Regions from separate parts of the Homo sapiens genome. Here regions 1, 2 and 3 are each linked to region 4. Evidence: fine-mapped expression QTL. A gene starts in region 4. Each other region holds a variant in brackets. All regions are shown on one strand. Distances are from middle to middle.

What was found.
Region 1: its variant is fine-mapped to the expression of METTL22 in platelets (CEDAR, PIP 0.95).
Region 2: its variant is fine-mapped to the expression of METTL22 in cerebral cortex (GTEx, PIP 0.96).
Region 3: its variant is fine-mapped to the expression of METTL22 in thyroid (GTEx, PIP above 0.99). The same link has a PIP of 0.9 or more in esophagus muscle, gastroesophageal junction, tibial artery and visceral fat.

Annotation. Positions count from the first base shown.
Region 1 is chr16:8,651,630-8,659,119 of GRCh38, forward strand. It overlaps a transcript of METTL22 not described here. Among named protein-coding and RNA genes, the nearest start is that of ABAT, 19 kb to the right of the region's middle. The variant C/A (reference allele first, on the strand shown) is at 3,670.
Region 2 is chr16:8,661,340-8,668,829 of GRCh38, forward strand. It overlaps a transcript of METTL22 not described here. Among named protein-coding and RNA genes, the nearest start is that of ABAT, 9.5 kb to the right of the region's middle. The variant T/C (reference allele first, on the strand shown) is at 3,689.
Region 3 is chr16:8,639,187-8,646,676 of GRCh38, forward strand. It overlaps METTL22 (methyltransferase 22, Kin17 lysine), which reads left to right. Exons shown (of 11, transcript NM_024109.4): 7 at 1,945-1,998; 8 at 2,941-3,021; 9 at 3,277-3,379; 10 at 5,371-5,539; 11 at 6,922-7,490. The coding sequence ends at 6,957. Among named protein-coding and RNA genes, the nearest start is that of METTL22, 21 kb to the left of the region's middle. RefSeq lists an enhancer at 1-477. The variant G/T (reference allele first, on the strand shown) is at 4,511.
Region 4 is chr16:8,618,608-8,626,097 of GRCh38, forward strand. METTL22 (methyltransferase 22, Kin17 lysine) reads left to right here and starts at 3,091. Exons shown (of 11, transcript NM_024109.4): 1 at 3,091-3,168; 2 at 6,889-7,191. The coding sequence starts at 7,059.

The DNA of each region.
Region 1 (7,490 bases), 33 kb after region 4:
TTTGCCACCCTATCCTGAAGCAATAGCTGGACAAAAAGCAAATCTGAAAAGTCAAATGGAAAAAGCCTGACTTCAATTTCAGGTTCCGTGTTGTACACGAGCATGATTTTGGAGGACCTGGGCAACCCTCAGAGAGAGAGAAAAGTCATGCTTTTGTTCTTACTCATAAGTGGGAGTTGAACAATGAGAACACAAGGACATAGGGAGGAGAACATCACACACCGGGGCCTTTTGGGGGATGGGGGACGAGGAGGGAGAGCGTTAGGACAAATACCTAATGCATGCAGGGCTTAAAACCTAGATGACGGGTTGATAGGTGCAGCAAACCACCATGGCACACATATACCTATGTAACAAACCTGCACATTCTGCACATGTATCCCAGAACTTAAAATAAAACAAGCAAAAAAGAAAAGTCATGCTTTATCCTGCTGATCCCAGCTCCACTCCACTTCCACGGGCTGCCAGTTGGGGGAGAAATGCTGCCAGGGACACAGCCTCAGAGTTCATGCTCTTCAGTATAGAGTCCAGATAAAAGTGAGATGTAGGCCGGGCGCGGTGGCTCAAGCCTGTTATCCCAGCACTTTGGGAGGCCAATGTGGGAGGATCATTTGCGGTCAGGAGTTCAAGACCAGCCTGGCCAACATGGTGAAACCCCATCTCTACCAAAAATACAAAAATTAGCCGGGCGTGGTGGTGCACAGCTGTAATCCCAGCTACTCAGGAGGCTGAGGCACAAGAATCGCTTAAACCGAGCAGGTCGAGGTTGCAATGAGCCGAGATCATGCCGCTGCACTCCAGCCTGGGCAACAGAGGGAGACTCCGTCTCAAAAAAAAAAAAAAAAAAAAAAAAAAGTGAGATGTAGTGTGTGCCCTTGCCCTTGCTTGCTGTGAAACCCTCATGTGTGGCCAGGTGCAGTGGCTCACACCTGTAATCCCAGCACTTTGGGAGGCCGAGGTAGGAGGATCACTTGAGCCAGGAGTTTGAGACCAGCCTGGGCAACATAGTGAGACCCATTCTCATGTTATTTAAAACAAATAATTATTTTAAAAAAAAAATTTTTTTAATTTTAGACTCATCTAAACTAAGGGAGCTGGGAGTAGGTGGCCATACCTTGGCCCTATGTGAGTGACTGTGATGGAAATATCAGTAGGTAACCAAGCTTATGGGTCTGTGCATCAGTGATCCACACACAACACACATCTTGGCTGTCGGCTGCAGCAGCCATGTGTCCCCTGAATGGGGAAGGGCAAAAGGAGCTATGGCTATGTGCCTGGGAGGTGGTCTTCCCAACGGGATGATGATGCTGTGTTTCCTGTCTGAGCCTTCTAGATGCTAAGTAAATGTGCTCTTAGATTAAAGCCTGTTGCATCTCAGGTGACTGCCAGTTCAAACCCACTTCTGCTGCTCAACCAATGCATGCGCCGGGCAAACGGTGGTGCTGCTGATATTGGAAGCAGGCAGTGGATCCCAGCTTCAACCAGGGAGGCCTTCCAGACTGTGCTGTTTCTTACATGGCAGTGTGGTACAGTGGCCCCAAGCAGGTGTCAGCAGGAATTTGCTTTTCTAACACTAGTTACTGATAAACAGACTGATGAATCACTCTGACAGTTTTGTGAATTTTAACCCTCTGTTAAAATCACAAGGGACAACGCTAAGTTTTAATATCTAAACTGGAATTTTAGGGGGCAAGATCAGCCCCTTAGATTGAAAGAGACCTATGGAGTTGGGTGATGTCAGGTGCCTCGGAGTCTTGGGGACAGCACCGATCTCTGTCCCCACATGGGCACACACTCTTGTCAGGCCTATCTGGCATTCAGTGATGACTTCTGTGTTGACAGGAAAATATTGATGGGATGAATGGAAAGGGTATAAAACATGGAAGAAGAAACTATTCTTTCATCAGTGATTAAAGGCAGCGGAAATAAAGCCAAGTAAAGTTCAGTGTACAAATTAATAAGGCAATCAGTCTCTATTGATTACTAGATGCCTGGTTGAAGTGGATCTTGAATTGGTTTCCCATGGGAAGGATTTGGAGATTTTAAGTGGCTGAGTGGTAATGATTAAAATCCAACTTTATTCTAAAGCTACCATACATAGTAAAGCCTTAATTAACTAAGACTCAGTTAGTTAAACCTGCTTCCCCATCATTTCCAAGGCTCAAGCTACTGAAACGTTTCAGTAGGACCAGGACTTAGAGACAGGAACACTGGGACCATCTCCTATATCTAAACACCTGGGTAGTGAGAACCCAGGAAGAAGGATGATATCAGGGAAGAATTTTGTGGAAAGCCTGACTTCAGAACCAAGCTCAATGTGGGAAGCTGAAATTGCAGTGACCCATGAGTACACCACTGCACTCCAGACTGGGTGTCAGAGCAAGACCCCATCTCAAAAAAAGAAAAAACAGGCTCAAGCAAAATGGGAGATCTCAGAGGATCGAGATGGTGATAGCCAACTGTCCTAAACATTTTAGATACATTAGCTCAGTAAATATCCCTCCACTCACGTGAGGCCCCACTTCATAGATGGGTAAACTAAGGAGGGAGTAGGCAAGGGGGCCAGGTAACTCTCCCAAGGTCACATAAGTTGTGAGGGATAGAGCCAGGCTTTGAACCTGAGAAGTTTGGCTTTATAGTCTAAGAATTTATCCCCCAGGCTCTTCACCACTCCTGGTAATTTGCTCATCATCACATAACTTATAAATGGCAGCTCTAAGGTATGTGTTTATAGGTGGAAAGTTACATACCACATGGTTAACCTTGATTAACCCCAGGGCATGGAATTGGGGGAATGGAATTGATGAGACTTTGCCCTTTATGTTATATACATGTATTTTGTTTTTACAAACATGGGTTATTTTTGTGTCTTTTTTACTAAAAATAAAGTTAAAAGAAATTAAGTACATGTGCACACATGCACGCATGCATACACACACAGCCAAAATGCTACTCTCTAACAAGAGCTGTATTTGAAAACAGATAGATCAAGCCAAGCTTTTGGGAAATAAAATTTATTTTAGCCCAAAGGTTCTAGAAAGACTCAGAGAAAAGTTCAGAGGGCAAATCATCCCTTGGGTGGGTCTGGGGCTACAAGACCCTGGGCTTGGTGCTCCTCCAACTGAGCCTCAGAATGCATAGAATGAGACTATGCCAGGCTCATCTGAACTCCATGTTGTCTGGTTCCCCAGTGGGAAATTTGTCATGTCCAGACCCAGGGGAGTGTGGCCGTGATCTGTACTAAAGGCTGAAGTTCCACCATAAGTTTTATCCATGTTTCTAGCCCATTACATTTTTACAGAGAACGCTAATGGACATAGCAGCAAACTGAAGGTGGACATAAATCCAGCCACCATGTGGGAAGGGAAAAAAGGGAGTAACTCAAACCTGCTGGGCCTCTTCCCAATAGTTAGAAGACTCTAAAATAAGCCAAGCCCTGTGTGGGGCATTGGGGAAAGGAACTGTATTATCTATTTGCTGCATGACAAAATACCCCAAAACTTAGAAGCTTAAGACAACAAACATTTATTATCTTACAGTACCTGTGGGTCATAAATCTGGGCTTAGTTTAACTGGGTGCCTCTGTCTTAAGACCTCTGCTAAGGCTACAAGGAGTTCAGCTGTGGTCTCATCTGAAGGTTCAACTAAGAGTGGATCCACATTGAGGCT[C/A]CCTCTTGTGGTTGGTGGCAGGATTCAGTTCCTCACCTGCTATGGGTCTAAGGGCCTCAGTTCCTCACTGGCTGCTGACCACAGACTTCTCTCATTTCTCTGCCATGTGGGCCTCTCTAGGGGGCCTCTGATAAAGCCAGGACATGACAGCAGCTTTCTCAGAGCAAGCATACAAGAATAGAGAGAGTTTACTGGGAGGTAACCTAATCTGAGAAGTGACACTCCGTCACTTTTGTCACATTCAGTTCTTCAGAAGTGAGTCACTAAGTCCAGCCCACACTCAAGGGGAGGGGATTACACAGAGTGGGAATACCCAAAGGTGGGATCACTGGGGACCATCTCAGAGGCTGCCCACAAGAGAGATGCAAAGGACACATCCTTGCCCTGAAGAGGCACTGAATCTGGAAGGAAGTGGGCAAGCCCGCCAGCATTGTGATGCAGAGATCGTGTTCTCATACCCACAGCTGATGTCCATTGAGCACCAACTTCCATCCAGGTGCTCTTCTAAACAAAGCCGTTCAATCTATTATCCACCTAAATGTGCAAACTAAGATTTATTTCTGAGGCATTTGGGGGATTCAGGAAGAGGAGAGGGCTGAGGGTGATGCCTAGCTTTCTGGCTTGGAGGACTGTGTCTTCTGACAAGACATAGTTCTTGAAGACTCACCACCATGCCCTCCACCAAGGTAAATTCTCCTGATGACCACATCTTTGCTCTAACACAGTGTTCTCCAAAGTATGGCGAGTTAGGATACCAGTGGTATGTGGCAGGTTTTTGTTGTTGTTGTTTTAGAGACAGGTCTCGCCATGTTGCCCACTGGAGTGCAGTGGCTATTCACAGGCATGAGCATAGTGCACCACGGCCTCGAACTGCTTGGGCTCAAACAGTCTTTCTACCTCAGCCTCCCAAGGAGCTAGGACTACAGGTGTGCACCACTGTTCCTGGCGCAGAGAGGTTTTAAGAGAAAAGCATTTTGAAGTTTATCCTATTGACATGTATGTAGCAGGATGCCACTTCCAGGGATTAGTCCTTTCCTCCACCCCCACTTCCTAAATGATTTTATTTGTACCCTGAGGGCCTTTTCCCCACTTCCCCCACAGACCTGCGTGAGTAGACCTCAGGCACCAACTGCACAACTAACTATTGGAGAAGCAAAGATTAAGCTCCAGCACAGCCACTAGGCAAAACCTGGGACACAGGGATTCTAATGTGAACTTGCAGAGTAAGATTCTCTGCTTCTGAGAAAACAGCTGTGTGGGCTGTGAAGATGGGAGAGGAGGTTTGAGACTCCAGTTACCTCAGCAGGAGAGCAGCCAGTCCCTGTCACTCCACCTTCATCTGCAGTGAGTGATGTTCCAGCAGTGCTGGCCTGGGCTGGGCTGTGCCCTGCGGCTCCAATGCCCTCCTGACAACCCAGGAAGCTGTCTTACTCCATTTTGTGCTGCTATAACAGAACACCACAGACTGGGTAACGTAATTAACAGAAATGTATTGGCTCACAGTTCTGAGGCTGGGAGGTCCAAGAGCTAAAGGCCAGCATCTGGCAAGGGCCTTCTTGCTGCATGATAGCACAGCAGAAGGCGCCACATGGTAGAACAGTAAAGAGAGGATGAGAACGAGAGAGAAGTAAACATGGGTCAAACTCGTCCTTTTATAAGGAACCCACTCCCGAGAAGACAAACCCACTCTGGTGATAACAGGATTAATCCACAGAGTCCTCTTGCCCTAATCACCTCTTAAAAGTCCCACCTCTTGATACTGTTACAATAGGAATACACTTCATCATGAGTTGTTTGGGAGGGAACAGACATCTAAACCACAGCTGAGCCCTTCTTACAGCAAGATAAGAGAGGAAGATGCCACTTCAGGGAGGATCGATGTCATTACAAGACCTCACAAAACCTGTTTGAAGTCACCCTCCAAGCTAGTCCAGTTGTTGAACCACACCATCATGCCCTGTTTTGTGTATTCTGGGAGAAAAATGTATCTTGCATTTGAAAACCAGGGACATGAAGGATATTATTCTCGGTTGAGGCTAAGTTAATAATTTGTGCGTAGTTAAATACAATATTAAGTAATAATGTAAGTGGGAAGCAGGAATAGCAAATGTCACAAAGATGGTGATCTTGGGGGCTGAAGTTTGCAAAACACCAACAATAGCTTTGCCTGTGGTTTCAGCCTTTGTCCTGTCCCTCTTTAACTAAAGGCAGGAAGACTTGTCCCCCATAAAACCAGGTTCCTTTTCGTCTACTATATGGAGTTCAAAACAATTTCAGTCAGTCCTGAGAAACTGAAGACAAAGGATGTTTTCCACCTTTTTGAAACTATAGTGGGTTGAATGGTGGCCCTAAACAAGCTATGTCCACGTTCTAAACCCCAGAACCTATGAATGGGAAACTTGGAAACATTTGAGAAAGGGGTCTTTGCAGATCTAATTAAGTTAAGGGTCTTGACAGTCGTCCTGGATTTAGGGCGGGTCCTAAATCTAATGACTGGTGTCCTTCTTTTTTCTTTTCTTTTCTTTCTTTTTTTTTTGAGACAAGGTTTCTCTCTGTCACCCAGGCTGGAGTTCAGTGGTGTGATCATAGCTCAGTGCAGCCTCAACCTCCTGGACTCAAGCTATCCTCCCATCTCAGTCTCCTGAGTAGCTGGGATACAGGCGTGTGACGCCATGCCTGGCTAATTTTGTCTGTTTTTAGCAGAGACGGGGTTTCACCATGTTGCCCAGGCTGGTCTCAAACTCCCGAGTTCAAGCAATCCTCCCACCTTGGCCTCCCAAAGTGCTGGGATTATAGGCATGAGCCACCGTGCTCTGCCCCTGATGTCTTTATAAGAGAAAGGAGAGGGAGATTTGAGAACCACAGTGAAGATGGCCTATGAAGGCAGAGATCAGAGTGATGCTGCCACATGAAGGAGCACCCGGGATCACCAGAAACTGGAAGAGGCAAGGAAGAACCCTCCCCTTGAGCCTTTGGAGGCGTGAGTCCCTGCTGACACCTTGATTGCGGACTTCTGGTTTACAGAACTGAAATAATCCATTTCCACTGTTTTAATCCCCCAGTTTGTGGTCATTTGTTACCAAAGCAAACTCATCCAGAACCCAAGGGATATAGGCTCAGAAATGTGCACCTCATGGTAAAGAAACACTACAAGCCACTGCAAAGCTGAAGGAGACAGGGAATGGGGAGGAAGTCCCCAGGCTCAATCTCAAAGATCTTGGCTGAAGCCCGGTTGCTCCTCGGCTCCAGAAGAGCTAGGTGGACATGGTATGCCTCATATCCTCAGGTGAATACTTGGCATCGGTCAGAAGGATATCCTGAGATGCTGTGAGGGATCTTTGAAAATATTTACTCTCCAGCATGTAAATATACCGAAAGATCTTCCTGCTATTAACATATCTCCGTCTTTGGGAGGGCGGGGACTTGGCTTTTCAGTCCAGATTTGACCAGAGTGCACGTCAAGGCTCTACTGTAGACACCCACTCTGGGAGGTCATTGCACAAAGCCCAAATCCCTTTGCAGGGCCCACAAGGCCCTCCAAGGCCTGGCCCCTGCCTCCCTTCCCAGCCCCATCTCATCCACCATATTGAATCCTCCCCACTCCGAGAATGCACCACTCTCTTGGCCATGTGCCTTAATGCAACCCCTCCTCACCCTCTCAAACCACCCACCCAGCCCCTCTCCCCTGCCCCTTCTTCCACAAAGCCTTCCCCAGTGTCCACAGCCCATTTAAAACTTGGTGTGATAATCAGCCAGGCACGCTGGCTCACACCTGTAATCCCAGCACTTTGGGAGGCCAAGGTGGGCAGATAACTTGAGGT
Region 2 (7,490 bases), 43 kb after region 4:
CCGCCTTTATTAAGAACTTACCGTTGGCCGGGCGCGGTGGCTCACACCTGTAATCCCAGCACTTTGGGAGGCCAAGGCGGGCAGATCACGAGGTCAGGAGATCGAGACCATCCTGGCTAAAATGGTGAAACCCCGTCTCTACTAAAAACACAAAATATTAGCCGGGCGTGGTGGCGGGCGCCTGTAGTCCCAGCTACTGCGGAGGCTGAGGAGGAGAATGGCGTGAACCCAGGAGGCTGAGCTTGCAGTGAGCCGAGATTGAGCCACTGCACTCCAGCCTGGGCGACACAGCGAGACTCCGTCTCAAAAAAAAAAAAAAAAGAACTTAAAATTGATCTCATTTATCTGCCCAACAACTTTGTACTCATATTATTTTATTCTATTTTATTTTATCACTATTATTATTATATTTTTGTAGAGACAGGGTCTCACTATATTGACCAGGATGATTTCGAACTCCCGGCCTCAAGCAATCCTCCCACTTTGGCCTCTCAAAATGCTGGAATTACAGGCATGAGCCACTGTGCCCAGCCTCCTGTACCCATTTTAGGGACACGTAAGCTAAGGCTCGAATCTTTACAGAGGCTGTCTGAGGTCACAGGACTCAGAAGTAGCAAGAATGGGCTTGGCATGGTGGCTCACGCCTATAATCCCAATACTTTGAGAGACAGAGGTGGGAAGATCACTTGAGTCCAGGAGTTCAAGACCAGCCTGGACAACATACCAAGACTGTCTCTACCAAAAGAAAAACAATCAGCTGGGTGCAGTGGCACGTGTCCGTAGTCCCAGCTACTCAGGAGGCCAAGGCAAGAGAATTGTTTGAGCCCAGGAGTTTGAGGTTACAGTGAACTGTGACTGCACCACTGCACTCCCGCCTGGGCAATAGAGCGAGACTCTGTCTCTAAAAATAAAAATAGCAAAGAAGTAACAAGAGGTGGGATCTAACACCGGTTCTGTCTTTCCATTGGAAACCCAGAGCTCTTTCCATGACCCCTGCCCAGGGTGAATATTGTTTGTCTGAAGGAATCCAGGAGCCTTGTGGATTGGAGCTTATGCTGTGCCATTGTCTTTGGATGGATTGAAGGGTTTGACATGCCAGGGCTGGGACATGATGACAGTCTTATTCTGCCTGCCTCAGGCTTCAGGAAACAACTGCTGTTAGAGCCATGTGGGAGCGTTTCTTGGGGGTGTTTCTTTGGAGCGTTTCTTCTAGACCAGGAAGGTGACAACCTTCACAGTGGGATGCATGGACTGGTGGTGGAGTTTCCAGCTTCAGAGCTCACCAAGAAAGAGCATGAAGCTGATGGTTTGGGTCCTGGAGACAGGGACAAAAGGAACAGAGCCTTCCCCCAGCACCCCTTTCCACTGGAGGTTCCTCAGAGGCAATAAAGCTTGATGGTTAGAACATGGCACCTGGCATCTGAACTCAAACCAGCCCGAACACTCACCTCTCTGAGCCTCAGAATCCTGGTCTGTAAAATGCGCACACTACTAGTACTTACTTCTCAAAGTTGGACTTGGTAATGTCTGTCAAGCACCTAACATATAACAGGGCAAGGAAGAAAAGCTCAAGCAATGGTAGCCATCACCAGGCGTGGTGGCTCACACCTGTAACCCCAGCACTTTGGGAGGCTGAAGCGGGTGGATCACCTGAGGTCAGGAGTTCGAGACCAGCCTGGCCAACATGGTGAAACCCCGTCTCTACTAAAAATACAAAAATTAGCCGGGCATGATGGCAGGCGCCTATAATCAGCTACTTGGGAGGCTGAGGTAGGAGAATCACTTGAACCCGGGAGGCAGAGGTTACAGTGAGCCAAGATTGCACCACTGCACTCCAGCCTGGGTGACAAGAGCAAAACTCCGTCTCAAAAAAAAAAAAAAAAAAAGGTAGCCAAGCCATCATCATCATCATCTCCCTATTATTATTAATCTCTGTTGCATTTCTATTAACTGTGTGTCTTGGGAGAATGGAAATTCCCCAAGTAGGCGTCCTGCTCAACAGTTAATGATGGTAAAACAGTCTCACTTGCCTAACCACTTCGCCTAAGTGTTACTTGACTGACAGGGTGGGTTATTTTGGGGAGAAAAAAAATCAGTCAAGCTCTCGAGTGCACCGTCCCTGAAAGGTTTCTATGACAACACATACCTGGATGTTCCAGTGGGAGGGTCACCTGGGGAAGAGTTCAGAGCTAAAATCAAGAGGGGGCCCCACCCAGGTGGGGGCCCCACCTGGAGGCTGGGGGAGGTCCTCCCACTCCTCCTATTTTTCTGCCTGTGTTTTCCCAGCCCTGACTCTGTATCCCTTTTAAACCTCTTCACAGCCCTGTGGGGTAAGTACTATTATTCTTACATCCATTTTACAGATGAAGCAACTGAGGCTTGGAGAAATTAAAGCTTGCCCAAGGTCAGTCTGCTGATCACATCTTGGATCATCTTAGACCTTTCTGGGTTTCATTTGTCAGACTAGAGGAGTTACACTAGAGTGAGGTTTCTCAGTCTCAGCACTGCCAACGTGTTGGGCTCAGTAATCCCATGTCATAGGAGACTGTCCTATGCATTGTAGAGCATTCAGCAGTCCCCTCGGCCTCTACCCACCGGATGCCAGGAGCACCTCCCTGTCTCCCACCCCCGACCACAGTCATGACAACCAAAACTGTCTCCAGCTGTGGCTAGATGGCCCCAGTTAATAACCACTGGGCTAGGCAATGATCTTTCCTCTTTCCTTACACTTGTGCATTCTAAGTTTTTTAATTTTTTTTTTTTTTTTAGATGGAGTCTCGCTCTGTTTCCCAGGCTGAAGTGCAATGGCGTGATGTCGGCTCACTGCATCCTCCGGCTCCTGGACTCAAGCGATTCTCCTGCCTCAGGCTCCCAAGTAAGTGGAACCACAGACATTTTCTATTTCTTTGCAAGCATTTTCTATTTCTTTGCAAGTTCACCTGTCTGTTCACCTGTGACACCATGCCCAGCTAATTTTTGTATTTTTAGTAGAGACAGGGTTTCACCATGTTGGCCAGGCTGGTCTCGAACTCCTGACCTCAGGTGATCCACCTGCCCCAGCCTCCCAAAGTGTTGGGATTACAGTGTGAGCCACCACGCCCAGCCTACATTTTATTTATGTATTTTTTTTTTGAGATGGGGTCTTGCTCTGCCACCCAGCCTGGAGTGCAGTGATGCTATCACGGCTCACTACAGCCTCAGCCTCTCAGGCTCAAGCAGTGCTCCCACCTTGGCCTCCTGAGTAGCTAGGACCTAGGCACATACCACCACACCAGGCTAATTTATTTATTTTTTGTATTTTTGTAAAGATGGGGTCTCCTTATGTTGCCTGGGCTGGTATCAAACTCCTGGGCTCAAGTGATCTTCCCACCTCAGCCTTCCAAAGTGCTGGGATGACAGGCATGAGCCACCACGTCTAGCCCACTCTAAAGCTCTTTCCCAGGACCCATCTCAAGTGATCCATGTGTGTTCATGTGACATTGAGGTCTTTCATGCAAAGATCCTTATCCAGGGCCCTAGAGCAGCCCGCACCTGAGCCAGGTGCTCAGGAAATCAGAATGAAAATCATCTCACCTGCTTGGTTGTCTGGCACGTCTCACTGTATCACCCTGCTTTAAAGGCACAGAAACTGAGGGTCCCTGGGGAGGAGGGACTCACTAGGGATCCCACAGTCTGTGAGCGAGAAAGC[T/C]GGGTGGGAGCCCTGATGGGCCTGACTCTAGGGCAGGAGTTTCCACGGTATCCTCTAAGGAGTTTGAGACCAGCCTGGGCAACATGGTGAAACCCCGTATCTACTAAAAATACAAAAAAAGTAATAATAATAAACAGGCATAGTGGTGCACATCTGTAGACCTAGCTGCTCAAGAGTCTGAAGTGGGAGAATCACTTGAGTTAAGGAGATCGAGGCTGCAGTGAGCCAAGACCGCACTGCAGCCTGGGTGATGAGAGTGAGACGCTCTCTCAAAACAAAATAAAACAAAAATAGCTGAGGCTGAGAGAGACAAATGCCTGAGAAGGAACGGTGGGTCTGACCTTGAACCCTGGTGACTCCAAGTCAGGAGCTGCCTCTGGGACCCAGCATACAGCCTGGCACCTTCCAGGCAAAGCCCCTCCCTCTGCTGCCTCTGAATTCAGCAGGAGACTGAGCGTTTGCATACACTTCGTGTCTGAAAACTTCCAGGATTCCCAAGATTCATTTCACAAAGACTTTTCTCGTAGGACAGGTATTTGAAACATCTGGTTAACAAGTACCCAGCTTGAAGAAAGCCTGGATCTTCACAGCACGCTCAGTTTGTAGAAGAGAAAAACCCTACTCTGGGCTCTAATTTGCTTCAGCTCCATTAAACACATCCTGAGCCCTGCTGTGTGCCAGACGCTGTGCTGAATACCTGGCACCAGAAGACCAATCGGGCCCAGGGCTTCTCCCCAAGGAGCTTCCTGGCCAGGCGGAGACACCCCTGGAATAGACCATTTAGGAGCCTGAGGCCTGCATGTAGCATTTAGTCAGCAGTTAAGTGTGGAAGTATAAGTGAGTAAATGGATGAATACCTGAGGGTGCGAATGAGCTACAGAATTAATGACTGAATGAATTAATGAAGTTGACAAATGCTATTACAGAAGTGAGCACAGACTATGATAGCCCAGCAGAGAGGCATTTAGAACCTTAGCTGTGGCCACAGGTGATGGTGCAGGAGGAAAAGCCAATATCTGTGCAGCATTTTCCATTTCTTTGCAAGTTCACCTGCCTCTATCATCTGAGACTCACCCTGAGGGTGTTCTTTGGTTGCCTGAGAGTCTGCTCAACCTGAAAGGGACAGGTGGCCAGAAGTGCTGGGGAGTTGACATCCTGAGCAAGCAGTTCTTGGCCAATGACGGGGAGTAGTTGGTGTATAAATACCCCAGCTTCCTTGCTCCACGGTGGGATAATCCTAAAGTGACTGTTCTGTGCCGGCTCCCAGTGTTCCCCAATGGAACGGAGCTGCAGTCACCCACAGTGATTATTTGCTAGATAACCCACACCTTATTATCGACCCACCAATATCTCCTGGAATCATCCTGAGATCACCTCCCAAATAAAGCACTCAAATCTTTGTCTCAGAATCTATTTCTAGGAGAACCCAAACTACAAGAGTGATGATTATGAAAACATTTATGGTCATAGCTAATATTTGCTGAGTGCTTACTACATGCCAGCCACTGCCTGCTACGTGCTCTAAGGCACTTCTCCCACTTAACACTCATGAAATCTCTGAGATGCAGACATTATGATCATCATCCCATTTTACAGATGGGACTGAGGCTCAGAAGTGAAGTCATCTATGTAAAGTCATGTAATTCTTTATCGTCACAGCCAGAATATGAGCCCAACTCTCTTTAACTCCAGAGTTTGAGGATATAACCATTCTGCCATGCTGTCTCCTGATTTTCTTTTCTTTCTTTCTTTCTTTCTTTTTTTTTTTTTTTCTTTGAGATGGAGTTTTGTTCTTGTTGCCCAGGCTGTAGTGCAATGGTACCATCTCGGCTCACTGCAACCTCCGCCTCTCGTATTCAAATGATTCTCCTGCCTCAGCCTCCCTAGTAGCTAGGATTACAGGCACCTGCCACCATGCCCAGCTAATTTTTTTGTTTTTTGTATTTTTAGTAGAGACAGGGTTTCACTATGTTAGCCAGGCTGGTCTCGAACTCCTGACCTCAGTTGATCTACCCACCTCAGCCCCCAAAAGTGCTGGGATTACAGGCCTGAGCCACCGCGCCCGGCTCTGTCTCCTGATTTTCATCTTCCATTGTCTGTAGGGAGGAGAGATGAGGACGAGAGGGAGAAAGGATGCCTGGGCTTGCTTTCTCAGTGGGGAAGAGTTCAATCTCAGTTCAGGTTTTCTTTTAACAAAATTTTTATGTTAATAAAATTAATAAAGTTGTTTTATTTATTTATTTTAAATTTTTATTTTCTTTATTATTTTGTTATTTTATTTTAAGTTCTGGGATACATGTGCAGAATGTGCAGGTTTGTTACATAGGTATACATGTGCCATAGTGGTTTGCTGCACCTATCAACTCGTCATCTAAGTCTTAAGCCCCGCGTGCATTAGGTATTTGTCCTAATGATCTCCCTCCCCTTGCCCCCCAATCCCCTGACAAGCCCCTGTGTGTGATGTTCCCCTCCCTGTGTCCATGTGTTCTCACAGCTCAACTCCCACTTATGAGTGAGAACACGTGGTGTTTGGCTTTGTGTTCCTGTGTTAGTTTGCTGGGAATGATGGCTTCTAGCTTCATCCATGTCCCTGAAAAGGACATGATCTCATTCTTTTTTATGGCTGCATAGTATTCCATGGTGTATATGTGCCACATTTTTGGGGTTTTCTCCTCCTCTGTAAAGTTTCAGCACAGAGTTCCTGGACAGCGCCTCAGGGCCAAGAGCTCCCCAAGAGCTCCCCAAGAGCTCTCCAAGATGTCCTTCCTCAGCATCCTGCTGTCCTTTTCATGCAGTGAAATTGATACGTATTCCTAGAACTCCTACTGCATGCCAAGCACTGTCAGAAGTCAAGTCATCAAAGAACTCAGAAAAGAAGTACATGTTTAGCTATTTTTTCCATCAGTCTCGATGAGGGAGCTACACTCCAACTGATCCCTGGAGATACCACAGCCATGTATTGTCAAGAAGAATTGGGGTAAATAGGCAGGGTATCTCTAGCCACAGGAGGAAGGGACCCAGGATGTACTAAGCTCCTTCTATATTCTTGGAACTACATACACATTAACTCAGGCAGGGTTTCTCAAGCTCGGCACCACTGACATGTTGAGCATGAGAATTGTCTGTTGTTCACTTTCTGCCTTTAGGAAGTCCTGCAGAGCATGGGGGTGGCAGTATGACCCAGCTCCCCTGTCATTTCACTACATCTTGAGCCAGAAGGGGGACTGCACTGCCGTGCATCCTTTGGGCTGGCAATGCTGGCGGTCCCAGTCATCACAATGGCAGCAGAACAAAGCCCTGACATGTGTGTGACGTGTCAGATGCAGCAGCTGCCTGTTGGGCCTGGCTCACTTTCTCATGCTTTCCCCATATTACCTGAGATGTTCAGAGGAGGAAAGCTGGAGGCAGCCCTTGGGTCTTCTAGGAGCCTAGCACGAGGGCCAAAATGCATGAGAACAAGCACAAGATAATCCCATAGAAGCCTTCCTCTTAGCATTCAGGCCTCAGATTAAATGTCACAGCCTTGTGGACAACTCCCTGAGCATCATGGCTGGTGTACCCACCCTGATCCCAGGAACATCATCTTATTTTGCATTTCCCTAAAGCACTTATTATCAGAAATTAGCTTCTTAGGCTGGGCACAGTAGATCATACCTGCATTCCCAGCACTTTGGGAGGCCAAGGTGGGAAGATCACTTGAGACCAGGATTTCGAGACCAGCCTGGCCAATATGGCAAAACCCCATTTCTACTTAACATACAAAAACTAGCTGGGTATGGTGGTACACGTCTGTAATCCCAGC
Region 3 (7,490 bases), 21 kb after region 4:
AGGGAGGGAGGTTTCTCTGTTTAGCAGATAGGACAGACACCCAAGACCATGACATTGGGAGGCAGGGCTCCGTCTGTGTCCCTTGCAGCAGGTGAGTAAGGGGAGCAGGCGTCGTCTGGGCATCACAGAGCTTCAGAGCATTGAGGACGCTCCTTGGGTCACCTCCTCATTCCCAGATCCACTGCGTCATCCTACTCCAGCTCTTTCTCTCCCGGACACTGGCGGCGGCCCCTGAGCTGGTCTCCCCAGCTCCTTAGTTGACCCGTCCAAGATGTCCTCATGAAACATCCAGAGTGCCCTTTCTCAGATGCAAGCCAGTCCACTTCACTTGCTGCTGAAAACCTCCCAGGGGCGTCATCACCTGTGGGGTGAAGTCTGAGCTCCTTGAATTCCCAGGCCTCCCTGGCCCAGCCCCGGCCTGCTCTCCTTGCCTCCTCCTGACAGTCTCCTTTCCAGCCCTGCATCCAGCACGGCCAGGACTCACTCACAGGCCAGTCCCCCTGCGCAGATGGGCCTCCGCCTCCATCTGCCTGGTTCTCTGCTCCCTGCACGGCCTGCAGGGATGAGTGTATGTGATGGGTGACGACAGTTATGTCCTAACGCCTCCTCCGAGCAGCCCCCCAGGCTTCAGGCCCTTCAGTGGTTTACTGTTGCTTGTCTCATGTTCTTGGGGATCTGGCCCCTGTCTGTCTGCAGCGCCCCCCACCACCAACAGCCGACCTCACCGTCTTTCAAATCACATTCCCTCGAGTCCTTTGCCCTTGCTCTTCCCTCTGCCTGAGTGCTCTGCCGTCCCTCCTCCCGGCAAGTCCTCATCACCCTCGGGGCTTCAGACCTCCAGATTTGAGGCCAGAGCCCCCAACAGACTCCAGGCACACGTTGCATGATTGCATTTTACCATCTGCTCGTGTGACTAGTTATTGGTGTTTTCCATTCCCACCGGACTACAAGCTCTGTGGGTGCAGGTACCCTGTCTGCATTTGCTCTGCACTGTCACAATGTTTGTTGAGTGCTCAGGGTACAGTAGGCAGTCAGCAGAGCTGGGAGGATGGAGGGAGCATGCTGGTGGAAGCCTTCCCTGACATCCGCTGTCTGACATGAGTTCCTCTCTCTCCTCCTGTGCGTTTGCCTCATCCTTCTGGCATCACCCAGCCACACAGTCTTGCCGTTGTTGGTTAACCTGCCAGTCTCTCCTAGGGGAGCTGGTCTGCAAGGATGGGGAGCATGACTCTTAAATCTTTATTTTCCCTATGTCTGGCACCGTCCCTGACACGTAGCACTCAAAAAATGCTGGAAGAATGGACGGATGGATGGAGGGAAGGGACAGAAAATGGATGATGGATGAGGAGGGAAGGAGGATAATAAGGATGGGTGGGTGGATGGGTGGGAGGGCAGAAGGATGGATAGATGGGTAGATGAGAGGATGGATGGATGGATGGATGGAAAGATGGGTGGATGGGAGGGAGGGAGGGAAGGAAGATGGGTGGGTGGATGGATGGATGGATAGATGGAAGGGCAGGAAGATGGGTGGGGGGGTGGGTGGATGGATGGATGGATCGATGGATGGCTAGAAGGAAGGATGAGAAGATGGATGGGAGGGAGGCAGGGAGGGAAGGAAGATAGGTGGGTGGGTGGGTGGGTAGATGGATGGATGGATGGATGGATAGAAGGAAGGGCCGGAAGATGGGCAGGTGGGTGGGTGGGTGAATGGATGGATGGATGGATGGATGGATGGATGGATGGATGGATGGATGGATGGGTGGGTGGATGGCTGGCTGGCTGGCTGGCTGGCTGGCTGTAAAGATGGAAGGGCAGGAAGGTGGATGGGTGAGAGCAAGGGTGGGTGGGTGGATAGATGGATCTTCATATATAGTGTAAAAGTTTATCTTTTTTTCCTGATGATGTTTAGAGTTTGGAAAGTTCTCTTTTTGTTTGTTTTTACAGGTGGTATAGTTAGGGTCAAAGAACTGGACTGGCTGAAGGACGACCTCTGCACAGGTGTGTGTTTCTCTCGGACGTCCCCCAGTATGATTCAGTGATTCCTTTGTAATACCTCAGTGCCCCTGGCTCTGTGGTTTTGACAGAGCTGTAGTCCCAGCTGCTGCCACAGTCCCATCGGCGCATGGCAGCTTCTCTCCATTGGCCGATGAGCACCAGCTGTCATTCTCTGAGCGCCTGCTGCATGCTGGGCACCTCACGTTCATTTTCTTCTCCAGGTGTTGTGGTTTCCCTGTGTGGTAGCATGATAATCCCTGAATTGTGAGTGCAGACTGCCCATGGGCACAGCTGGTACACAGCAGGGTAGGGGCATAGACCCGAGTTTGTCAGACTCTGGGGCACAGACCATTTCCCAACAAACAGTGGTGCCAGGAAACCCCCCGGGTAGGACAGTTTCCATATTTCTTACACAGACTACTTCAGACCTGGGTGCTTGCTCTTTCTTTGTATAAAGATGTCTTTTTTTTTTTCCCTGTCAGATGGCAGATGGGAAAAGTCGTTCCTTGAGTACTGGTCACCTGCCTAGCACTTTGCGCACCGTAGGCCCTTCGGCCCTCCCAATAGTCCTGTGAGGAAGTAGTACTGTGCCCTTTCTGTGAGTGCAAAACTGAGGCTGTTTTCCTGGGCCACCCAGCAGGCAGAAGGGGGAGATCATGTCCTGCACTGGGCCACAGGCCAAGGCAGCGGGTGAGGCTGAAATCCGCCCGCTGCTCACTGGCTAGAGCAGACACTCAGCAGAAAAGGCACCTCTTCCACCATGACTCTGCACCCGGGCAGCAGTGGGCCTGAAGCAGGGAGTCTGGTCTGCCTGGTGGTGCCCACTGCACCGAGCTACCCCCAGCCCTGTTTCTTCTCTTGAAGTGCCTTTTGGTCAGTCCCAGTGAGAGTTGGTGGCCAGGAGAGAAGGCAATGGGCACAAAGTGTGCTTTTGTTCTTTCTTAGATCCCAAGGTCCCCTTCAGTTGGTCACAAGAGGAAATTTCTGACTTGTACGATCACACCACCATCCTGTTTGCAGCCGAAGGTAAGAAAATTTCTCCTTCGCCGTACACGTCCTTTGTTGTAGCATGAAGTCAAGTGCAGTCTCTCCTCACTTCCCCCGGGAGTTCAGTTTTAGAAGTGACTTTCTGGTACATGCCACCACATCTGCAGTTTTAATTCTGGAAGCTGCTGCTGTTCCGTGGTGATAAGCATTCTCTCTGTGCGGATTGCTCTGAAAAGTCGATTTCTGTAATATTTGCGTGTTTTCCTCTAATGCTGGCCTTTTTGCTTCCCACAGTGTTTTACGACGACGACTTGACTGATGCTGTGTTTAAAACGCTCTCCCGACTCGCCCACAGATTGAAAAATGCCTGCACAGCCATACTGTCGGTGGAGAAGAGGTGAGCTTTGCGCCACGGGAACCGTGCTGACGTCCCGAGTGTCAGCGGAACTCTCACCTCCTAATTGTGTCCTTGTCAGTGTCATTATGATTGTTACTCAGTGCCACTTATTGAGCACCTACTATGTGCCAGGTCTGTGCTCATCCTTTGTGTACGTTACTGCACTGAATCTGCATCCTAGCCCTGTGTGCAGGCGCTGCTGTCCCACTTGACTGATGAAGAGAGGAAGGCTGGGAAGCATCAGGGGCCTTGGCCAGGGCACGGCTAGTTAGTGATAGACAAGGACTTGAATGCAGACTGTACTGGAACCTCAACGCTTGGCCAGCACACACTGTTGAGAGCTTCTCTTCCTGAATGTTCTCTCTGTGGTGCCGTCTGTCTCTTCAGCTCCCCCAGGTCTCTTTCTCTTGCTGAATCGGACAGCTCCTCACCCAACAGCCTCACCCAGACATTTCCACTAGAATATCCTGAAATGTTAGGTTCCATTTATTGAGTGCCCACCTTGTGATAGCTACACACATTCTCCTGTAATACTTAACAGTAGTCCACAGCTTTTCTGAAGATCGTTCGGAATCCACAGCAAAAGCTGTAAAACGAAACAGACTTCTTCACCCAGCAATTCAGCATCTGGAAATTCACACTCAGGGTTGTGTACAAAGCTGTATGTACTTGCATATTTATTGCAGTGTTACTTATACCAATAATACCGAGGGCTTGCTTTGAGGCACACACTGAGCAATAGCAATGTACAGACCTCATTTGGATCCTGATTTCATAAACTGTAAAGGAAAAACATCAGGACAGTTGGGAAAAGTTGAATACTGAATATTTGATGTTAAAGGGTGATTGTTAAACTTTAGTTGAAGAGGTCTTCATCTTCTTGAGACACACACTGACATTTCCAGCTTCACAGAGGAAATGGGTTGGTGTCTGGCATTTGCTTTTTAATAACTCAGTGAGGGCAGGGGGCCCCGGGAAGAGCCAAGGTGGCAGAGTGGCTGGAAGTGGACAGTGGCTGAAGCTGGTAATGGGTTCATTAGACAGTTTTGTTTTTTTTGTTTTTTTGAGGCAGAGTCTTGCCCTGTCAGCCCAGGCTGGAGTGTGATGGTGCGATCTCGGCTCAGCACAAGC[G/T]CCACCTCCCGGGTTCACACCATTCTCCTGTCTCAGCCTCCCAAGTAGCTGGGATTACAGGCATGCGTCACCACACCTGGCTAATTTTTGTATTTTTAGTAGAAACGGGGTTTCACCATGTCGTCCAGGCTGGTCTCAAACTCCTGACCTCAGGTGATCTGCCCTCCTCGGCCTCCCACAGTACTGAGATTACAGGTGGGAGCCACCACGCCCAGCATAGACTGTTCTTACTCCTGTTGCATGTCTGGAATTTTTCTTGATAAAAAAATTTGGAAAGAAAAGGGAAAAAGGCAAAGAGCTTTAATTTCAAGTGAAACCATCTTGTAGACTAAGGTTTTGAAAGGCAAGTGGCAGGGTTGGGAGACCTGTTTCTGAAGGTGCTCACTCTCTGAAATCTCTCAGACCCCAGCTTCCCAGCAGTTTTCTCTCTGTTCTCTGTGCTCCCGGAGTCCTCTGCACCGCCCCCTGCCACTGCCTCTCATTCATTCATTTCTCAGATAGTTATGCGCAGCTCCAGGCACCAGATTCTGTGCTGGGTGCAGGCAGGACCTGGAGGGCGTCCTCAAGTGTTGATCTGCAGGACTGTCTTGATCTTTCCAGCAGTGTCATTGTGGGCACGTGACCTGAGCTTTCTGAGCCTGTTTCCACATCTGTAAAGTGCTATCCACTTCCACCTCCTGGGCTGTCGTGCAGATGTAGGAAGGAATTGCACTCACACACTCAGCATGAGACAGGCGCTCAGTAAAAGCCCGTCCAGGGGATATGAGATCAGTGAGGGATAGGAAAGCAAGGTGGGCAGAAACAGCAAAACCCTTCCCATTGATGATGGCAGTTTGTGCGTCCGACTGGCTGGTTTGCAGGCTCAACTTCACATTGAGACACTTGGACGTCACATGTGAAGCCTACGATCACTTCCGCTCCTGCCTGCACGCGCTGGAGCAGCTCGCAGATGGCAAGCTGCGCTTCGTGGTGGAGCCCGTGGAGGCCTCCTTCCCACAGCTCCTGGTTTACGAGCGCCTCCAGCAACTGGTAGGTCCAGGCCCCGAAGCAGGGCCGTTGGTTGCTTTACTGTGAAGCGGGTGACTCCAGGGCAAAGAGGTGATGAAGCAAGCCCTCCAAGCACAGGCTCCACCCTAGTCCTGCAGGGGGTGAAGCCTGCGTGCCTGGCACCATCTGTAGTGGAACCTGTTGGGGGAGCTACATCCTGTTCTTAGCAGCCACCATGTCTGGAGACGGGCCTACAGGCGAACCTTGTCTTTTACTTTATAGCACATATTCCCCCCGTTGGACAGTTCAGACTCCAGAGGAGGCAAGACCGAGGCAGAGGTTGTTTGGGGAACAGGAAGTCAGTGGAGGGAAGTTTGTGGGTTGCAGATCTTGGTGCAGGCGCCCCGCTGTGGTGGCCGCTGCTCACATCTTCACTGTGGAAGGATACCAGCCCCTCTCGGACTGAACTGGCTTTTCTATTAACTGGAGTCCAAAGATTGAGAATTAACTTCTTTTGTTCTGTTTGCCTTTTGGCTGTGGCCTCCCTTTCTCTATGTCTGTGGAGACCCGGGCCTAGTTCTAAGGAAAAAGGGAGGAAGAGGGAGTCACGAGGAGCTGCCGCCCTTGCACTCTGTCTCGCGTCCTGAGGGAGGGCAGCATGGAATTCGTGTGGTTTTGTGTGCGAGGAGGATCTTGTATTTATTGCTCTGCCACTTCTGGGCAGCATTAAGAGTAGCGTCACATGACCAAGAACACACATTTCTTACAAGTCAGCAGCCCCAATACATGATGCCTAAGACGTCCCAAAAAGGCCAGGTACGGTGGCTCCCACCTGTAATCCCAGCACTCTGGGAGGCCATGGTCGGAGGGTTGCTTGAAGCTAGGAGTTCGAGACCAGCCTGGGCATCACAGACCCTATCTCGACAAAAATCAAGAAAAAAAATTAGCCATGCATGGTGGTGCACACCTGTGGTCCCAGCTACTCTGGAAGCTGAGGTGGGAGGATTGCTTGAGCCCAGAAGTTCAAGGCTGCAGCAAGCTGTGATGGTGCCACTGCACTCCAGACTGGGCAACAGAATGAGATCCTGTCTCTAAAATAAAATTGTTTATAAAGATCTCCCCCAAAATGGAGAGATACGGCAACTCACTGCTATTCTGGTCTCTTCTGATTGTTTGACATCCTCTGATGCACCTTCCGTTAATGCTGGGACTTCATCCATCCAGCCTCTCTGCCACAGTAAAATAGAACAGCCCAGAGCAACAAAGAAAGGAGGAAGCCGCCCGTCCGCTCCTGCCCCAGCTCGCCTGCTCCGTGGCTGACGTGTTGTCTAACTACTCTCCTTGGTGAATCACTTTCCTTAATGAAATTGTGATGCTCTTGTATGTGCACTTCAGAAACCTGTTCTTTTCTCTGTTTGCTGCAGGAGCTCTGGAAGATCATCGCAGAACCAGTAACATGACCCATCGCCTCCACAAGGCGCGGCGTCTCGACTGTTCTTAGAGTGTATTTCTAGTAAAATCAGAAGCTCACCAAAGCAACATGCTTGAGATTTTGTCATTTTAAAAATATGGTTACACGTACCTTAGATGACCCAAGATGGTTTTCTGGGGTCTGTCCCTGCCTCCCAGTTGTAGCCAGAGAAGGTTGTTGCTGTGGGCTGGAGGTCACTTTAGTTGCCTGTTTCTCATGGTTGTGATGTGTGCTCCAGGGTCAAGCCGAGCCACGTTCCTTCTCAGCTCAGTTCCACCCACGTCAGTCATTTCAGCTGTGTGCTTTACTTGCGGTTGCGGCCCTGGCTGTGAGGTGGATTCTTGTACTGCCCTCTGTCAGCTGTTTACAGATGGGTTGACTACCACTGCCAGTATTGCCATCATATTGCCGCTCGGCACAAAAGCCTCATTTCCTCCCAGGGTTGGGTATGCTCCACCCCATCACTCTGGTGAGGGCCCCATGAGAAGGAAGAGGCAGGAGCTGGCGCCAGGAATGGACTGG
Region 4 (7,490 bases):
GTGAATGGATGAATATAATTAATCAGTGGCCGAGCTGGGGATTTGAACTCAGCTCTGTGCTCTTGAAGGTCAACCTCCTGCCTCTGCACACAGAACCAGGAACCAGAGCGCAGACTGCTGTGCATTCAAAGCAGCTGCCGTGATATGCTGATGGGAGGCGGGGGCAGAATTATCATCACCCACTTTCAGCAGTCCTGGAGGACAAGCTCTCTCTCCAGGAGGACAAAATTTTCTGGGGCTGACTGGGAAAACACATCAAGCATTTGGTAAATGCACGACCTTTGGAGAAAGGGCTGTTCTGAATAACCCAGCTAATAATAATCACCCGACAGCAATTTCCTGCAAGCTGGTTTCTTAATACACATCTGGCAGTTCATCCGCCTTCCCTCTGCTGCAGACATGGTTTGTCATTAGTCCAGGTGGTGGGAGTGATGGACACTCCAGCGTGTGTGAGCATGCACCTTAACCCTTGCTTCGCCAAGTCTGGGGGAGACTCTCAAAGCAAAAGACCTGCCTGGGACACTAGGGAGGGCATTTAACCCTAAGGCTCCACCCAGCAGACTCACTGGGACATTTTGAAAATGTGAGTCTGAGGCCAAGTGTGGTGGCTCATGCCTGTAATCCCAGCACTTTGGGAGGCCAAGGCGGGCAGATCACGTGAGGTCAGGAGTTTGAGACCAGCCTGGCCAACATGGTGAAACCCCGTCTCTACTAAAAATACAAAAATTAGCTGGATGTGGTGGCACACGCCTGTAATCCCAGCTACTCAGGAGACTGAGGCAGGAGAATTGCTTGATCCAGGGAGGCAGAGGTTGCAGTGAGCTGAGATGGCGTCACTGCACTCCAGCCTGGTCGACAAATGGAGACTCTGTCAAAAAGAAAAAAGAAAAGAAAAGAAAACGTGAGTCTGCGTCTCACTGGCTAGGTAACACTGAGCAAGGCACTTCACCTCTCTGAGCTTCGGAATGGGTGTGAGAATGAAACAAAACCACAAGATGAAGGGGCCAGCAGTGTGCCTTGTTTATAACTGAGGCTCCGGAACTGAGGGCCCCCTCCCGCACTCCCCCAGCTACCATCTCTTTGCAGCCCTGCCAAGAAGGGCTGGCTTTCTTTCCCCTTACCTGGTGACCTATTACTGTGTTGCAAACCACCTCAAAATTTGTGGCAGAAATGATAACCCTTTTGGGGCCATCTGGGCTGCTATAACAGAATACCATACATGGGGTGGCTGATAAACACATTCATTTCTCATGGTTCTAGGGGCTGGAAAGTCCAAAATCAAGGCACTGGCAGATTCTGTGTCCAATTCTTGGTCATAGATGGCTGTCTTTTTGCCGTGTCCTCACATGACAGAAGAAGTGAGGCAGCTCTTTGGGGCCTCTTTTGTAGGGGCACTAATCCCCTATAAAAGATTATAGGTTTGACAAGAGGAGGAATGTGATCTTTTGATTTTTAAGGGTCATTCCCCCGGTTTAAATTTGAAGACAAAACTCCCAAGGGTGTGAACAATGCCTTCCTAGTGCCCTCCCCACCACTCAACATCCTCTGGGGATAACTAAGAGAACCCTCAGCGAACTAGAGAGAAAACTATGAATAGAATCTGGTCCCAAGACACCCAACTGGCTCTCTGTGTACTGTCCTGGGGGATTTCAGGAAACATAATCTGTTTCTTAAAAAAAAAAAAAAAAAAAATTCTTATTTGTGTCGCTTAGTCACCCTATCAACTCTCCACGTTTTATCATCAGTAACCATGAAATTGATGTTGATTTAATTCTATTTTGAAAAGAGAAAAAAAAGTAATTTAGACAAAGGTTGCCAGCTGAGGCCATGTGTGTGCGTGTGTGTATATGTGAACACACAGGGATATAGATTTTACATATGTGGACTTTACATATGTTCCTGTGTGTATATTTGTATGTTCACTGACATGTCTGAGAGTGAGCACCACTGTGTGTGTCTGGGCATGTCTGTGAACACGTCAGTGTGGTGTATATCCCTGGCAGCTCCCCATCTCACGCACAGTAAAATCCAAAGTTCTTAGAATGTCACAAAAGTTCTAACCCTGGCTACCTATGTATCCTCGTTTCCTGCGGCCCATCCCCTGGCTTACTCCATTGTGGCCAGGCTGACTTCCATGATGTCACTGAATATATAGATTGAGAAAAGGGCCAATATTATTGACTGTACTTTTTCTAAAAATGCAGTGACTCAGGCAAGAGACGTGAGAATCTGTGGTCTATCCTGCTCATCCTCTTCAGGGGATTCTTCTGAGGGCTGTGCTCAGTCACGGACTCAGAGGCTTTCTGAAATTCTGCAGGCAAGAAAAAACGAGCAAACATGGAGTCTTATGTTTGCCACTCTGTCTCACCCCCTTGGTGTTGGAAACTTGATGAGCATACGAATTAACGAAATCACTACCACCTAATGAAATCACTACCACCTATTAATAATAACAAGTACTGGCTGGGCGTGGTGGCTCATGCCTGTAATTTATGAGCTTTAGGAGGCCGAAGCAGGAGGACTGCTTGAAGCCAGGAGTTTGAGACCAGCCTGGGCAACACAACAAGATACAGTCTGTACAAAAAAAAAAAAAAATGGTGCCACGCAACTGTAGTCCCAGCTACTAGAGAGGCTGAAACAGGATTCCTTAAGCCCAGGAGTTCAAGGCTGCAGTGAGCTAAAATTGCGCCGCTGCACTCCAGCCTGGGTGACAGAGCAAGACCATCTCAAATAAACAAACAAACAAACAAACGAGTACTAAGAGCATGGATGACGGTAACACCCGTGATAATAAATACAGTAGCATGCTGGTTAAATAGCACCGGCTCTGATCCCACACCCCGGGTTCGAATCCAGGCTTTACCACTTAGTAGCTGGGAGAGTTATTTAACTCCTATTTAAGTCTTTTAGAGGAATGAGTTTAGCCACCTAGGCGGGTCCCCCCAGCAAACACGCCTCGCCCGCGACCAGAGCGAAGGCTACAGGTGCCCGCCGGCAACCCTCGGACGCATGCGCGGCCCGGGCAGGTAGGTGGAGCCACGGTGCGGGGCAGTCGGATGGTCGCACGCGGGGGCGGGGCCGCGCCTGCGCAGACCGCCTGTTATGGCGGCCGCCTAAGTCCCACAGAGACGGGAGTCGGGTGGGATCCCAGGCTGGGCCCCGCGGCGGGTAAGTGCCTGGGAGAGGCGGCGGGATAGGGTAGGGTGCAGGGAACCTCCTGGCGCCGAGCCTGACTTTGAAATCCGAGCTCCCACAGATCGGAGGCCCAGATCCCTAAGGCCCGACCCCACTCTTAGCGTCAGTTTCCCCTTCTCAACACGGGTGTTGGGGAAAGAAGTCCACGTCCTCACCTGGGTTTCCATCCTGGGTCCAGGCACCTCTCCTTCGGTTCTAGATTAGGAAGGGAGGGCAGTGCCCGACCTGTGACTGTTTTTTGAGAGGGCAATAGTTAACCCACAAGGGTGGCGTCAGGAAGGCGACAAGACAAAGAGAACGAGTAGCCCCACGGGGGACGTCCCCGGAGCCCCTCACTACCACTCTACGCACCGTGGCCAGGCCACGTCTTTCCTGCCCCCAGCCTGGGCCTTCACACCCTGCCCTCCCCAGCTCCTGGCCTAAATCGTCATGGGATCGCGCCAAATTATTGATTGTTGAGTGAGTTGCAGTTATCAGAAAGAAAGATGAGGAGGGAAGTTATTTCAACACCGTGATCCCAGCACACTGCTTATTTGGGACAACTGACTGGGGACCTATAGGAGAAGAAAGCTGGTAGCGTCTCAGTCTAGCCCCCACAGCCTTAGAAGAGCCAAGAACACGTTAGCTCCTGCTGCAGGGATGAGCCTGCAGCCCTATGGAGAGGTGGTGGGGCAGGTCCCCATCTGCAACCTGGGTCTCCTTTCTCAGCTCTGCCCAGTAAAGAGAGGAGCCCGAAGCCCATACAGACCCTGCATTTCCGGAAAGAGACTTTTCCTGACTAGAGAAACTGTTACCTTTTTTCTTTCTTCCCAGCATTCACTTTAATCATTATTATATTACTATAATGATAGTATTTACTATTGTTGCTTATTGAACGTTTACTATATGTCGTAAGCCCGAAAAGTGGTAATTGTCTCATATACTCCTCTGAGTATATGAGGGCCTGAGATAGGTTCAAGAGGGCCTCCTTATTCCCAGATAGCTGATTCTAGGGAAAGCCACTTAAAGGGAATCTCCTTCATCTGGAACTTACATTGCAGCGTACATTTCTTGGGAAGCCTGGTTGGGTTGAATTTAAAAATGGAAAATTCAACTAGAGATTAAGAATTTGAGTTTTTTTGTGTGTGTCTATACTTAAAATTTGGTGTGTAATATTATGCTCACTTTTGGAAAAAGCAAAGAACATTGATTTTTCTGGGATGTAAGTTTTCCAACAAAATTGCGCTATAGGCCATGCCTGGTGGCTCACACCTATAATCCCAGCACTTTGGGAGGCCAAGGTAGATGGATCTACCTTGGTCAGGAGTTCAAGACTAGCCTGGCCAACATGGCAAAACCCCATCTTTACTAAAAATACAAAAATTAGGTGGACATTGTGGTGCATGCCTGTAGTCCCAGTTACTCGGGACTCTGAGGTAGGATCACTTGAGCCCAGGAGGCGGAGGTTGTAGTGAGCCGAGATGGCACCACTGCACTCTAGCCTGGGCAACAGAGTGAGACTCTGTCTCAGAAAAAAAAAAAAAAATGCGCTATGGCAAAAAAAGAAATGGCATCCTTTGGTTCACTTTTGATTTTTACAGCAATATTAGAGAGGATCTTCCCCACCCCCTTCAAAAAAAACTGTATGTGAAAGTCCTCAGTTTTCCCCCAGGACATCTCTAAGTCCTGAGAGAGCTTGATCTGCCTTTGAAATGAGTGGTAGGTATAAGCTGTATTTTCTCTTCTGGAATCTGGTGTGGTTTTGCCAGTCCGATTGATTGAGTGTTGGCCTTCAGGTCCAGCATTTCTCCATCACTTTCAATGACACCATGAAATTCTGCATTGATTTGCCAGATTCACAGACTTTCTTTACAACCCACTTGCATTTTGATGGCTTTATGGTGTTGAGTAGGAAAGCTAGCATGGAGATGAATAAGGAATCATCTTTTTCTTAAAAATTTTTTTGTTGGGACAGCTTTTGCTGCCCCACAGCAACCACTTAAATGTAGGAACTCCAGCAGTGTACTGGGATCATTAGGACAGCCTGAGTCATGATGACCTCATTTTGCAGTTGAAGAAGTGGGGGCCCTGAAGATTTCATGACATCTACCCAGGTAGGAACAGCTCCTATAGGCAGTCAGGGGTTACAGGCAGGTTTGGGTCAAATACCTGAAACCAACCCCAGGACAAGGAGGTTGCTGGTGTTTTATTAACACCTACTGTGAGCCAAGGACTCTGCTCAGCAGTTTACCCACCCAGTAACACTGCGTGAGATTGTGGCTGAAGAAACAGATGCAGAGAGGCGAAGTGATTTTCCTGAAATCACATGGCTAGAAGGTGAGAAACCAGGGATCCCCACCTGGTCTGTCCAGCTTCAAAGCCCATCAGACTACTGCTGTTTGATGATGCTTTTTGATTAGGTGAAACGGTTGGAGGGAGGTCCCACCTGTTCTTGACCACTTTGCCTCAGCCATGGTTTTCCAAGTTTTAGTTATTAATGTGTCACCTGCATAATTTTGCCATATCTGTGTATCACCAGTGTAGTGACTCCCTTACTACTTTTCCTTTAAATCCACTCACTCTTTTTTTTTTTTTTTTAATTTCTTTTTGAGACAGGGTCTTGCTCTGCCACCCAGCCTGGAGTGCAGAGTGCAGTGACGCATTCTCAGCTCACTGCAACCCCTGCCTTTTGGTGTCAAGCGATCCTCCCACCTCAGCCTCCCAAGTAGCTGGGACTACCAGCGCGCGCCACGACACCCGCCTAATTCCACTCATCTTTTTAAATTCAGTAGCAGAGCTTTAAGCCAGGCATGATGGCTCACGCCTGTAATCCCAGCACTTTAGGAAGCTGATATGGGAGGATGGCTTGAGCCCAAGAATTTGAGACCAGCCTGGGAAACATAGTGAGACCCTTGTCTCTACAAAAAAAAAAAATTTAATGCCAAGTATGGTGGCATAGCTGTAGTCCTAACTATGAAGGAGGTTGAGGCAGGAGGATCGCGTGAAGTTTGAGGCTGCAGTGAGCCATGATTGTACCACTGCACTCCAGCCTGGGCAACAGAGCAAGCCCCTGTCTGTAAAAAGAAATGTTTAAAAATAAAACATTGTTTAAAATAGGAAAGCTTTATAACAACAAATGATGTGGGGACAGTTGATAACAGCTTCTAGAATAAAAAAGAAAGAGTAAAGGGCCATAACAACTAAATGCAAAGTGCAGATTGTGATTGGATACTGGTTTCTGGGGGAAAAAAAACCTCAAAGACCTTTGGGAGACAGATGGAGGAAATTGACTTTAATGCTATTAGGGAATTATTAATTAACTTAGATTTGCTAATGGTCTTATGATTATATAGGGAAATGCTCTTAGGGGACAGACATTAAATAATTTAGGGGCAAAATGTCATGATGTCTACAATGTACTCTCAGCTCAAGGAGAAGAAACCAGAGAGGGCAGGCACGTGTGGCAAAATGGTGAGGATCATTGAATCTAAGCAGTAGTTCTACGGTTATGATATTCCCCTGTATCCTTACTGTTTGAAATTTTTTTGTAATAAGTTGAAAAAAAAGGGAAAGGAAACTTTATAAATGGAAATTCATATCCCTTTCTATAAATAAAAGGTTACTATGAAAATGAATATAATGAATATATGAATGAATATAAAATGAATATAATGAGTGAAATGAATATAAACAAAATAACGCATTAATTTCCAGCTGGATTCTCTTCCCTGGCCAAGTCTCTGAGATCTTCTCCCAGGGCGATGCAAAGCTACTCGCTACCAGCTTGGACCTGTCTGCAGTATCTCCTCTGGGACCTGCCATGCTGAGGACCCATTCTCACCTCTGAGGGACTCCTGTCCTAGGACTAAGGTGGAGCCTGGGCCATGGTACAGCTGGCTCCTGCGGCAGCCATGGACGAGGTCACCTTTAGGAGCGACACTGTGCTGTCAGATGTCCACCTCTATACCCCGAACCATAGACATCTCATGGTACGGCTGAACAGCGTGGGGCAGCCAGGTAAGGTCCTGGGCCCAGGTGCCCTGCGGATCCTATTTTGTTTTCTGCTTTCTCATACTCATCTTTTTGGGGAAAATATTGGGAAGACTGGATTACGTAACTGTTATCCTCAGACCACTTTTTAAGTGCCCTTTTTTTCTTTATGATTTTTTAAAAACCTTGTACTCTGCAATTTTTGTATGTGGGGGTTTGTTTTGCTTTTGTTTTTGCTTTTCTTAAAGACAATCTCACTCTGTCACCCAGTCTGGAGTGCAGTGGCACAGTCATGGCTCACTGCAGCCTCAAACTCCTGGACTCAA